Homo sapiens: one gene and its partner. The protein of the gene in region 1 interacts with the protein of each later gene in a biochemical or structural test. Each region holds a gene or a part of one and is shown on either strand. Other genes may lie near its edges. The genes, in order: COL1A2 and SERPINB5.

The links.
Region 2: the proteins of COL1A2 (region 1) and SERPINB5 form a complex in vitro, tested with the Homo sapiens proteins (one study listed by BioGRID).

Annotation. Positions count from the first base shown.
Region 1 is NC_000007.14:94,404,895-94,411,914, reverse strand, and holds part of COL1A2 (collagen alpha-2(I) chain precursor), read right to left. Parts: intron 6,717-7,020; coding exon 6,663-6,716; intron 6,243-6,662; coding exon 6,189-6,242; intron 5,666-6,188; coding exon 5,612-5,665; intron 4,069-5,611; coding exon 4,024-4,068; intron 3,733-4,023; coding exon 3,679-3,732; intron 3,580-3,678; coding exon 3,535-3,579; intron 3,146-3,534; coding exon 3,092-3,145; intron 2,594-3,091; coding exon 2,495-2,593; intron 2,352-2,494; coding exon 2,307-2,351; intron 2,193-2,306; coding exon 2,094-2,192; intron 1,674-2,093; coding exon 1,620-1,673; intron 1,496-1,619; coding exon 1,388-1,495; intron 1,027-1,387; coding exon 973-1,026; intron 860-972; coding exon 761-859; intron 1-760. UniProt on the Homo sapiens protein: Type I collagen is a member of group I collagen (fibrillar forming collagen).
Region 2 is NC_000018.10:63,500,658-63,505,822, reverse strand, and holds the end of SERPINB5 (serpin B5), read right to left. Parts: intron 2,494-5,165; coding exon 2,101-2,493; 3' UTR 738-2,100; downstream 1-737. UniProt on the Homo sapiens protein: Tumor suppressor. It blocks the growth, invasion, and metastatic properties of mammary tumors.

The DNA of each region.
Region 1 (7,020 bases):
TGTGAAAAGAGTTCTGAAATTTTTCTTCTATTTTTTTGTGGCTTTCCTTTTATTGAAATTTAGTGCAACTCATCCTTTTATAGATATCTCAAGAAACTGTTAAGCAACATGTATATGGGCAAAATGTATCACGTTATTTACCTCATAATAGAAAAACTAATACTTTTAGTAAACAATTTCCAAAGTGGATTTCTTATTGCTATATTTGGTGTCCCTATTACTTGTTTATGGTACAATTACAGTTGATATTCACCCATAAGAGGCAATGGAGGCAAAAAAATTACTCTATTGCTATGGATTAGTGTGTCTATGGACCTAGAGGTTATTTCTCCATAGCTAGTGTGATGCTGAATACATTACAGCACTTTGTGATTGCTAGGAAAAAGACTTCACTTATGAATCTAATAAACCAAAAATGTATAGTCCTAATATATTTCATGAACACCTTATATAAAACTCACAAATTAAGATAAAAGATTCATGCTGATAGGAGGACCAATCTAATTTGGATATATTAAAATAGATCTATTCTTCCAAAAACCTCATAGCCATTGTATCAAGTAATAAATAGAAAATTTATGAACTAATTAAATGCATGAAAATATCTACTGAGCTTTGATAAAGTCAAAAATGCAACTGTCAGCAAGACTACTAACAAATTTACTTTTGATGTTTTTATTGTTATCTTCAATATTAACCAACCCTTTAAAGAAGGAAGTAATGCCAGGTGTGATTTGCTCAGAATCAGTTTGAAACTTACTCTGGGTCCCATGAGACCAGGCTCCCCAGGGCGACCAGCATCTCCATTAGGTCCTCGGACTCCAGCAGGGCCACTTGCACCACGACTACCAGGAGGGCCCTATTCAAAAAAAAAAAAAAAACAGATAGAGGAGGAGGATGCTAAAGCTAATGACACACCCACCACCAGAAGCAGCAAGCCCCTTTCTAGGAAGTAAGTGATAGACAGCTTACCATGACGCCAGCTCTGCCATCAGCTCCAGGAAGACCACGAGAACCAGGACTACCCTGCAAGAAAGTACATGAAATAGAGAGAATTAAAGAAATCTCTTGGCTTTGATAAGGTAGAGTTTGTAAAAAATAGCATGATCTCCTTACAGGGGAGATACAGACACAAACCAAGCCAAAACACTTCACCCAACCCCTAGAGGAATTCATAGATGAGCATCCTGCAAAAGTAGGTCAACATTGTTTCCAGGCCAATTTTATAACATATTAAATTGAGAGTCACTGATTTAATAAGGCAGATGGAAAGCAGATGCTTTTTTTGCCTAAGAAAACACAGTCAGTAATTTTGACCAATTCCCAGTGAAGGGGTATCATAATCTGCCTCTGGTGTGTTAGGGTGTTGGGAGCATTTGAAACCTACTCTCAGCCCAGGAGGTCCTGGAGGGCCGGCAGATCCAGCTTCCCCATTAGGGCCTCTCTTTCCTTCTTCACCACTGGGACCAGGAGGACCTTGGGGCCCAGCAGAGCCCTGTTTAATGAAAAGAACAAAAGAAGAGGGAGTAAAAAAATAATTTTAATACTATGTCCAGCTGGAGAAACTGGAATGAGAAAAACAATTAACTTTATAAAAGTGTGATGATAGAGCTACTTACGGGCTCACCCTTGTTACCGCTCTCTCCTTTGGAGCCAGCTGGACCAGGCTCACCCTAGGGTTCAATACAGAACAGTGGTCAAAGGACAAACATTTGTTGAAACTCTCTTGCAGACAAATCTCTTAGAATATTTGTGGGTCAAGGTAAAGAGAAGCTCAAGTTCTCTAGGAAATGTACCCTGTTCATATTTAAATTGAGTACAGGGGAATGGTATTATTGGTCGAAGGGACAAAACTGATATTGTAGAACTTTGCCTCATTTACCTTGAGGTAATGATTTAAGATAACAGGAAGGGCATGTCTGTGTGCATATAGCAGACGGGAGTGTACATATATATATAAGAAATATAAACTAAAAATGCTAAGGAAGAGAAAAATAGGAATAATAAAACTACAAGTGGAAGTCTAGATAGTGATGAAATGATGGCAGAGGTGGTATTTCAGGATGATGAGAACCACAGTCATGACCACTTACAACAAGTCCTCTGGCACCAGTAGCACCGGCAGCACCAACAGGGCCAGGAATACCGCGGGGTCCAGGGAGGCCGGGAGCCCCAGCAACGCCGGGAAGGCCCTGTGAAGGAAAATGCAGTGTGGTCCATTAGGGAGGTGATGGGCTGTAGAGGCAGCACACATTAAATGCCTTTAAAATCATAGCAGCACATTTTAGCTACGCAGGTATACTCACAGCAGCACCCTTGGCACCAGTAAGGCCGTTTGCTCCAGGATTACCCTATGAGGAAAAGGAAAGGAGAAGGATATCAGTTAATTGGAATATTTCGGTTCTTCTTTGACCCCATCTTCATTCTTCTTCTTCCCCATACTCCACCTTTGTTTTCTTTTACTCAATAAAGTTTAAAGACAGTGGCTACTTACAGGAGGTCCAACGGGGCCGGAGAGGCCTGGAAGACCCACTTCACCACGGGGACCGGCGGGACCAGCAGGACCAGCGTTACCAACAGCTCCAATTTCACCCTAAAAGAGGAAATTAAACCAAGGAATTAACCAGCAAATAATGAAACAGCATATCTGTTTTTAAGATGCCAAGTTTTATGAAATGTCTTCATAAAACTTCAAAATTGCAATTATTTTTCTTATCCGTTTTATTACAAGATTTGAGTTTGGTTTCCTATTTTCCTTGCTTGATTCTGCCATCTTGGCTACTGTTACTACCTTCCCTCTCCTTCTGTCTCTCTGTGGTTGACTCTGGTTCTCAGTCAGTCCTAACTAACTAGTCCTAGAGACAATTTCCATGTTGTCATCTATATCGATGGGCACAGTGCACAGTGCAGAGAAATGATCTATTTCAAATGTAGAGTGAGAAAACTGGTCATTCTATGTCCATTTTGAAGGGAAGGAATAATTAAGGTAACTGTTTCGTAATTATCTCTTTATCTGCAAACACAGTTCCAATCTTTCACATCACAGTAAAAAGTTTATCAAAGTAGTGACAATGGTCACCAGTGTTTTTACCTTGGGGCCAGGGGCACCTGGGAAGCCTGGAGGGCCAGCAGACCCAATGGGACCCTGAAATCAAAGCAGAAGGTGGTAAGAAATTTCCTCCAAGTAAATTAAGAAAACAATAACAATGGCAGAAGATTGAAGTTGCTTACAGTGGCATGACACTGTTTATATTAGTAAAGAAAAAAACTGACAACCAGTCTGTTGTCGTTAGGATCTCATCAAAGGCAAGACATTCATGGTATCCAGGGTGGGGATATTTTGCTTTATACATCAATCAAAAGTTCAGGTACTTATAAATGGCTTACACTACTTATAAATGGAGCCTTCAAAAGACCTCACAGAACATTTGGTAAAGTGTCTGAAATGATGCTATTTCGTAAGAGATTAATGAAGAAGACAGCACCCACCCCACATTCTCAACTCCTTTCAAACTCCCCAGTGTCAAAACTTACAGCAGGACCCACGGGACCCACACTTCCATCACTGCCACGGGCACCCTAAGAAGAAAATAAAGGGAAGATCAGGTGGAAACTTAAATGACAGCCATTAGAAGATTTTTTAAAAGGATGAAACTGAACAAAAATGGAAGCACTTACAGCTGGGCCAGGGGCACCAACACGTCCTCTCTCACCAGGAAGCCCACGGGCTCCCTAGAAGCAGAAATATTTTCAATAAAATCCAGAATGCTAATTTAAAAAAAGTCACAGGCATCATTTGCTTTGTTCAGTTTCCAACCTGTACAAGAATACACTAAAAATAAATAAGTTGCCTTCTAATTCCAACTAAACAGTAGTGGATTTCAATTAAGTATCAGAAGGCTATTAGAAAAACATCAAAGAATACAATGCTGAAGGATACAGTGATTAGCAAAAACATTAAAGAAGTTCCATCTCATAAAGAGTGTACACATTTAAATTTACAATGAAGTAGTCAATACTTACTGTTTGACCTGGAGTTCCATTTTCACCAGGGGCACCAGGTTCACCCTACATGGAGAAGGATTGAGTTTTTGTTCATTAAATATAACAATTATTTTTCCTGATAGTGCAATTTTACTCTATTTTTTTTACTTTGAACCATTCATATACTTCATAATATTTCTTACACATATAGATTGTTTTTCAATTATGCCAGACACACAGATTTTAAAATGTGCTAACATGAGTTTTTATTCAGATAGTACCACATATCCAGGTTCTAAGGAGATGTGGTTATTTGAGTGTACCTCCTCCCCAATTTCTCCCTTAGATTCAGGATATCAATTATATACTAGAAACAATATCATAAAAAGAGATGGCAAAGGATAAATTTGCTTTCAATGTAACCATATTTATCCTTTTTAAAGTTATTTTGAACACTCAGTGTTATCACTTTCATAAAATGTGCATGAAAAATTGAAGCTTCATGGTATTTTTTAGAGCCATCATATTTATTTCCAATCTATATTCTTATCCTGAGTAAAAACCAGGGTAGTAGTAGTAGTAGTAGTGGGATTTAATACTATGGCACATGTAAAAGAACTTTTTTTAAAGATAATCTGATTTAGATATAGGGGAAATATGGTTTAAGAGACCTCATAAGGACCCTTAATTTCCAGGATTCTATGTGAAGTCTATTCTTTGGGAATAAGCATTGAAGTGGCAAGGGGGGATCATTTCTAGCCTATGACTTTCTAACCTCTAGATGTGTGACTTTGGGCAAGTCAATTGCTCTCACGAAGCCTCAGTTTCCCACCTCTGCAAAATGAGGGGGTCTCCAAAGCTCCTTGCAGCTCTAACATTTTATGATACAGTGATTAGTAGTCTGAGCTGTTATATCGGGCTCTTGGGAGAATGAGTTTGACCTTATCCATTTGTGTGGCAGCTGGAAAGTTAGAATAGATTCTCCATATTCATGTTCATTTCTGGTCCCGCTAGTATTCGTTACTCATTAATTTGTAATTACGTTGGTATTCACTTTAATATCACATTATCTCCTTAATAGGAAAGAGAACATTTTATAGTTGAAAACGCTGTCAGAGAAGAGCCTAGCCAAGAGATAACACACTTCTGAGACTTTAATTACCTAATTAAAATTTTTTTGAGTGTGCACAGATAAATCACAGGAAAGAGGTTGAAAAGTGTATAGCGACATGAATGTACCTATCTAATTAGTGTGTGGCAAAGGAGAATTTACAGTTTAAAATAATACAGAGTGTCGTAATCTCTGATTATATGTTTATTTACTTTTATTTTGGCTGCAGAGATACACTGGAATTATAGAGGGAGGAAAGGAAATGGAACAAGAAACTATTAATATTATTTTTATCTCAATTGTTTAATAGATATTGAATTTTAATAAATATTAATAATTGACCTTTTTTCACAGACTCTCATAGTCCCCATCCTTGAGGGATTTGAAGTACAGGAAAGAAAAAAAATAAAAATACTTTTTGTAATATGGGTAGTCTTCAGTATAATATACTTTTTTGGAGGTCATGGGGAATTTCAATCAAGTGCTTAAAAACAGTGCTTCTAATTTAATATTTACCTTCACACCAGGAGCACCGGGCTGTCCCTTCAATCCATCCAGACCATTGTGTCCCTGAAAGGAAAGCCTTATTATAAAATGCTGTTCCATGATAGTGTTTGGTCAAATAAAAATTGTATTGTATATCTTTGCCATTAATCTCTCTTGGGTAAGTCTTGTCTGCTGCAGTAGAAAGAAGTCCAGTGTTCCAGGTCCCAGCAAACTCAGTCTATTGCCCTAGATAGGTCACTTAACTTTCTTGCCATTGAGAGAGAAGGATGGAGGACTAGGTGTTCTCTCACATCTTTTCCATCCTTAATAATTTTATGATTTTCAGACGGTTGTAAATACTCAATAAGTAATACATGTTCTATATAATTTTCTCTGTAGTGAGCCTGTTTTTTGGTAGCTATGAACAGACTGAAAAAATTGCACCCCACTTTACTTTCAAGAAATCTGACTCTTTAACTCTTTCTTCCCTTTGGCAAACTCCAGGGATTTGAAAGTGAGTATATGTCACCCAAGATTTTAAACATACTTGAGTTTTTTCCAAAAATTAATAGGCATTTTCTCTCTTCTGAGTAAAGAATGTGCTCACCCTAATGCCTTTGAAGCCAGGAAGTCCAGGAGTTCCAGGGAAACCACGAGCACCCTTAGAAAGAAATACAGAAGATGGTGAATAATGTTTTACCATAAATAAAAAGACAGTGACTTCTTCCCTCCAAAGTATTTATTCTCATCAAAGTTCAAGCTTTGAACCAAAGTCTAGTATACCTCTAAGCACAGAGTGACAAATTAACTTGCTCTAATGTGAGTAACTAATAATACGGTATTTGTAGAAAACACAATTTAGTTGCTTATGGTATGCTTGCTGTCATTTATATTCCATTATTTGCATGAATAAAATGTATATGCATTTTTTTTTAACTAGGCTTTTTTCTTTATTAGATGCCTTCGATTCATGTTATGAGTTTGGGTGACATCTATGTTGTCATTTAGATTGATGCTAGTTTTAGCAACTATCTTATAGGCCTATGATGTTTGTGCTATCTACCAATGTAAAAAGTCTCACCTGTGGTCCAACAACTCCTCTCTCACCAGGTCGTCCGGGTTTTCCAGGGTGACCCTAAACATGAAAACATTGTAGAGTCAACTTCTTCTTGGTAAACTATCAGACAAAATGGGGGAATCTTGGTTTTTACAAAAGGGGAGAAAGTTATCACATAAAAATATGGATCCAGATATATATTTAATCTTTCCCTTAATACAAGTAGGTTAGTTAATATTTCATTAAAATAATATTTCCCATACATTAAGAGTTCTGTCAGGCATATTCAGCTTTTGGCAGAATACTTAATTTGAATCTAGAAAATCTTGTTGAGGCAAGAGTATTTAAATAGCATTTTGAAAGTGCTTAAGAGTAAATACTT
Region 2 (5,165 bases), on another chromosome or scaffold:
ATGTGCATGGCATTGAGAAAAACACTCTTCATAAGAAGAAACAATGTTTTAAGCACATACAGTGTCCTAATATAATGACTTTTGAGGGTGGGTTTAGAGTGAAAAGGGCTGGGAAGATCTCTATGTCCCAAGGTGTCTGATTCCATTATAGATGTTTATGCAGTTGAGAGTCATTCTAGCACTGCCCTGGTCTTTTACTCCCTAGGATGAAAGGAGTGTGGGAGAAAGAAGTCAGAGCTGAGGGCTAGGAAGAAAGGAAAACAAGGGAAAAGAGGAAGTAATTATTCTTATTTCTTTTTAGTCTGCCTCAATCTTCAAAAGAGCATTTTACCTACAGGGATGCTTTGGGGTTTTTTGGGGTTTGTTCTTTTTGTTTTGTTTTGTTTTTGTTGTTTTTATGTTTTGAGTTTTTGTTTTGTTTTTTTTTTTTGAGACGGAGTTTTGCTCTGTCGCCAGGCTAGAGTGCAGTGGCCTGATCTTGGCTCACTGCAACCTCCGCCTCCCAGGTTCAAGCGATTCTCCTGCCTCAGCCTCCTGAGTAGCTGGGTCTACAGGTGGGCGCCACCACGCCCAGCTAATTTTTGTATTTTTAGTAGAGACGGGGTTTCACTATGTTGGCCAGGATGGTCTCAATCTCTTGACCTTGTGATCTGCCTGCTTCAGGGATGCTTTTGTAAACGCACGGCTTGGTTCTATTTCAAAATAGTCTAACTTAATAGGAAAAAAAAAACAAGACATGTAGTTCAATAATATTTTATTGTCAATAGCATAGGAAAAATTCAATATTGAATCTCAGAACAAGAAGAACCTATTTACAATGCAGGTCAAGGAAGAGATGGGAGAAGGAATGTCACAAAATTTTTGGTAAATACATATTTTTTATAGAGAAGTAATCCATGAACCTGCAACACGGATAGCTTATCCAACCAACTTTACAAATTACTATTAATATAAGTTACATGCTTGCCATCTAAAGTAACTAAACCCATAGACTGAAAAACTATGTGTCAAGGTAACGTGAGCACTTTAATCACTTTACTTATATTTTCTAAAGGCAGTAGTTTCCTCTCCTTTTCCCGCTATCATATTAGATGAAGAGACAAGTTCCTTCAACACAAATTCTGATATCGGCTATTGTGAGAATCCCTGTGCAAGTCAGCTAGAAGCCCCTGCCACCAGTCTAGTGCCAACCAAATGACCAGATGGGACAGCTATCAAAAATGAAAGTGAATTTATATTAAGATCTGAACTTCCTCTTGGGGTCTTGCATTTCAGCTACTAGAGGTCTATAATTCCTTATCCAACATTCCACAATCTGAAAAGCTCTGCGAACGAAGTGTTTTTGTAAGTTGGTGGCATACGCATTTGGCAGCAAATTTTGACCCCTTATGGGCTACTTAGTCTTTATGTATCCATTTTGTCTGAATATTCTACATTTTGTTGCAGCATATTAAGGTGTTGATTTATAGGGTGCTGCCCCAGATCTGATCCATGAAGTTCTATAACATACAGTGTATGTAAAATATTATCTTTTGAAAATCCCCAAAATTCAGAATTTTAATAAACACCTGCCTGCCAGGGCTTAACATAAGGACTTCTGGACCTATAGTAGCCTGAGCATGTGCCCAAGTTTCACTGGAGCCAGGGCAGTTTCGTGGGTCCCATGCACTACACTTTCTTCAGTCTTTCAGGGAAGCGAGAATGTCTGGAACATTCTCTATCCCAAAGAAGGAAAGCATAGTGCTGGGAAGAAGAGCTTCCAAATCTTCCTTATAGGAATTTTCTTTGTGGAAGACTGTATTTCTGCCAACTACCCCGGACAATTTGACAAATAATGAATAAATATTTTTCCTCTAACGTGATTCCTTTTCATTAAAAGCGTATGTCATTGTCTTATGGGAAAAAAGGAAACAAAAGATAGAATTGGAAAAAAAAAAAAGGTCTATCTGTGTGAAGGCTACATATGACAAGTACTGGCGGCTTCCTGATCCAGCAACATTAGCAATTTATTGTATCTAGAAAATGAATCTCTGGATGCAGAGTTTACAGAAATCGGCATCCACAGAAAAGTCAGGGAGGACTTAACATGGGCTATGCCACTTAAGGAGAACAGAATTTGCCAAAGAAAATAATGTTTCGAGTTTTGTTGTGCCTGATGATGTAAATAAAGGGATGGTCAGCATTCAATTCATCCTTGTGCTGCAGGATCCGTGCTCCTGGCACCTCTATGGAATCCCCACCATCTTCAGTTATTTCTAAGCACACTTTGTGGATAACATTTGATAGGGCCACTCCCTTGGTCTCTGACATTCCAGAGAAATCAGATGTGTCTTCACTGAAGATATGTTTCAGCCCTAGATTTTCCAGACAAGCCTTGGGATCAATCATCTTTTCCACCTTAAATTTTGGAATGGAGAGTTTGACCTTGGCATTGGCCATGGTGCTGGGATTAGTCCACTGTGACAGTGACTCTGAGTTGAGTTGTTTTTCAATCTGAAGGACAAAAATGAAAAGAAATTATTTTTATTTATTTCCAACTGTAAAAGACCTGGCTCAATTGAAAACATAAGGTGTTATGATAAGCCCAGCTTCAAAGCAGTCTGGGTGGAACATCAAAGATGGCCCAGAAGTTTTTGGTATGTGACTCAGGAGACCCAGCAGCCACCCAGCTGTGTCCTCCTCCTCCCCAGCCTATAACAGTGTTCCATGTGCACTGAAATTTATGAGGACAGGGTTCTGTTTTTTCATTTTAAGTTAGAGAGTAGTTTTTTGTTTGTTTGTTTGTTTGTTTGGGTTTTTTTTAGACAATCTTGTTCTGTCACCCGGGCTGGAGTGTAATAGTGTGATCGTCGCTCATTGCAACCTCTGCCTCCTGGGTTCAAGCAATTCTCGTGCCTCAGCCTCTCGAGTAGCTGGGATTACAGGCACACTCCACCATGCCCAGCTAAATTTTCTTTTGTATTTGTAGTAGAGACAGGGTTTCATCATGTTGGCCAAGCTGGTCTCAAACTCCTGGCTTCAAGTGATGTGCCAGCCTCAGCCTCCCAAAGTGCTGGGATTAAAGGTGTGAGCCACCGCACCCAACCTTAAGTTAGAGAGTAGATTTATAGAAACAAATGCCTGGATCATGATGTTGCATACACAATAGTGAAATGAATATAAAATTAGAAAGCTTTTTACACATATTTCTTGAATGCTTATTGTAATTTCTCTACGAGGAAATCCAGAATATTCATGTACTAGGAATGGCATCAGATTTAGAAAATTAAATTAAAGCTAAAGTTACTTTTTTTTTTTAATGGGAATTTGAACTAACTCTGAGCCATGCCCTAGGGTCATAGGTAGTGAATGCATCCATTTTAGCTGTTTTAAAAAATGAGAGAGATGCGGCTGGGCGCAGTGGCTCACGCCTGCAATCCCAGCACTTTGGGAAGCCGAGGTGGGTGGATCACGAGGTCAGGAGATCGAGACCATCCTGGCTAACACAGTGAAAGCCCGTCTCTACTAAAAATACAAAAAATTAGCCAAGCGTCGTGGCAGGCACCTGTAGTCCCAGCTACTCGGGAGGCTGAGGAAGGAGAATGGCATGAACCCAGGAGGCGGAGCTTGCAGTGAGCTGAGATCATGCCACTGCACTCCAGCCTGGGGGACAGAGCAAGACTCCATCTCAAAAAAAAAAAAAAAATCATTTCCAAAACTCAAAAGGTCATTTTCTTTAGTTCTATACTTTAAGAAGAAAATAATTGAAAGCCAAAATTGACAAATGGGATCTAATTAAACTAAAGAGCTTCTGCACAGCAAAAGAAACTACCATCAGAGTGAACAGGCAACCTACAGAATGGGAGAAAATTTTTGCAATCTACTCATCTGACAAAGGGCTAATATCCAGAATCTACAAAGAACTCAAACAAATTTACAAGAAAAAATCAAACAACCCCATCAACAAGTGGGCAAAGGATGTGAACAGACACTTCTCAAAAGAAGACATTTATGCAGCCAACAGACACATGAAAAAATGCTCATCATCACTGGCCATCAGAGAAATGCAAATCAAAACCACAATGAGATACCATCTCACACCAGTTAGAATGGCGATCATTAAAAAGTCAGGAAACAAGAGGTGCTGGAAAGGATATGGAGAAATAGGAACACTTTTACACTGTTGGTGGGACCGTAAACAAGTTCAACCACTGTGGAAGTCAGTGTGGCAGTTCCTCAAGGATCTAGAACTAGAAATACCATTTAACCCAGCCATCCCATTAGTGGGTGTATACTCAAAGGATTATAAATCATGCTGCTATAAAGACACATGCACACGTATGCTTATTGGAACACTATTCACAATAGCAAAGACTTGGAACCAACCCAAATGTCCAATAATGATAGACTGGATTAAGAAAACGTGGCCCATATACACCATGGAATACTATGCAGCCATAAAAAATGATGAGTTCGTGTCCTTTGTAGGGACACGGATGAAGCTGGAAACCATCATTATCAGCAAACTATCACAAGGACAACAAACCAAACACTGCATGTTCTCACTCATAGGTGGGAATTGAACCATGAGAACACCTGGAAACAGGAAGGGGAACACCACACACCAGGGCCTGTTGTGGGGTGGGGGGAGGGGGGAGGGATAGCATTGGGAGATATACCTAATATAAATGACAACTTAATGGGTGCAGCACACCAACATGGCACATGTATATACATGTAACAAACCTGCACATTGTGCACATGTACCCTAAAACTTAATGTATAATTAAAAAAAAGAAAAATAAATTATTGAAATAAAAAAAGAAGAAGAAGAAGAAAATAATTGATGTTTATTGGAGGGCGTTTTAAGAACGAAAGGTAAAATCCAAGACAGCTGGATAATGGCTGAAAGATCAAAGCATAAAATGGAAAGAAAAAAAACAGAGAGAGTAATGCACCAAAGAAGAAGAAGGACAGGAATTATAATTCAGTTAATAAAGTGGTGGCTAAAACATAATGGCAACCAAAGGAGCAAGCTGGAGACTGGATGGTCCCCTGGAAAGTCAGCAAATCACTGAGGCCCATGTGGATATATAGCAAGTGATCCAGGCCTTCAAAGAGCCCCTTCTTCCTTCCTGGCCAAGGGTTGAGGCCAGGCGGGGTGGAGCTAGAATGGAAGCCAGGGA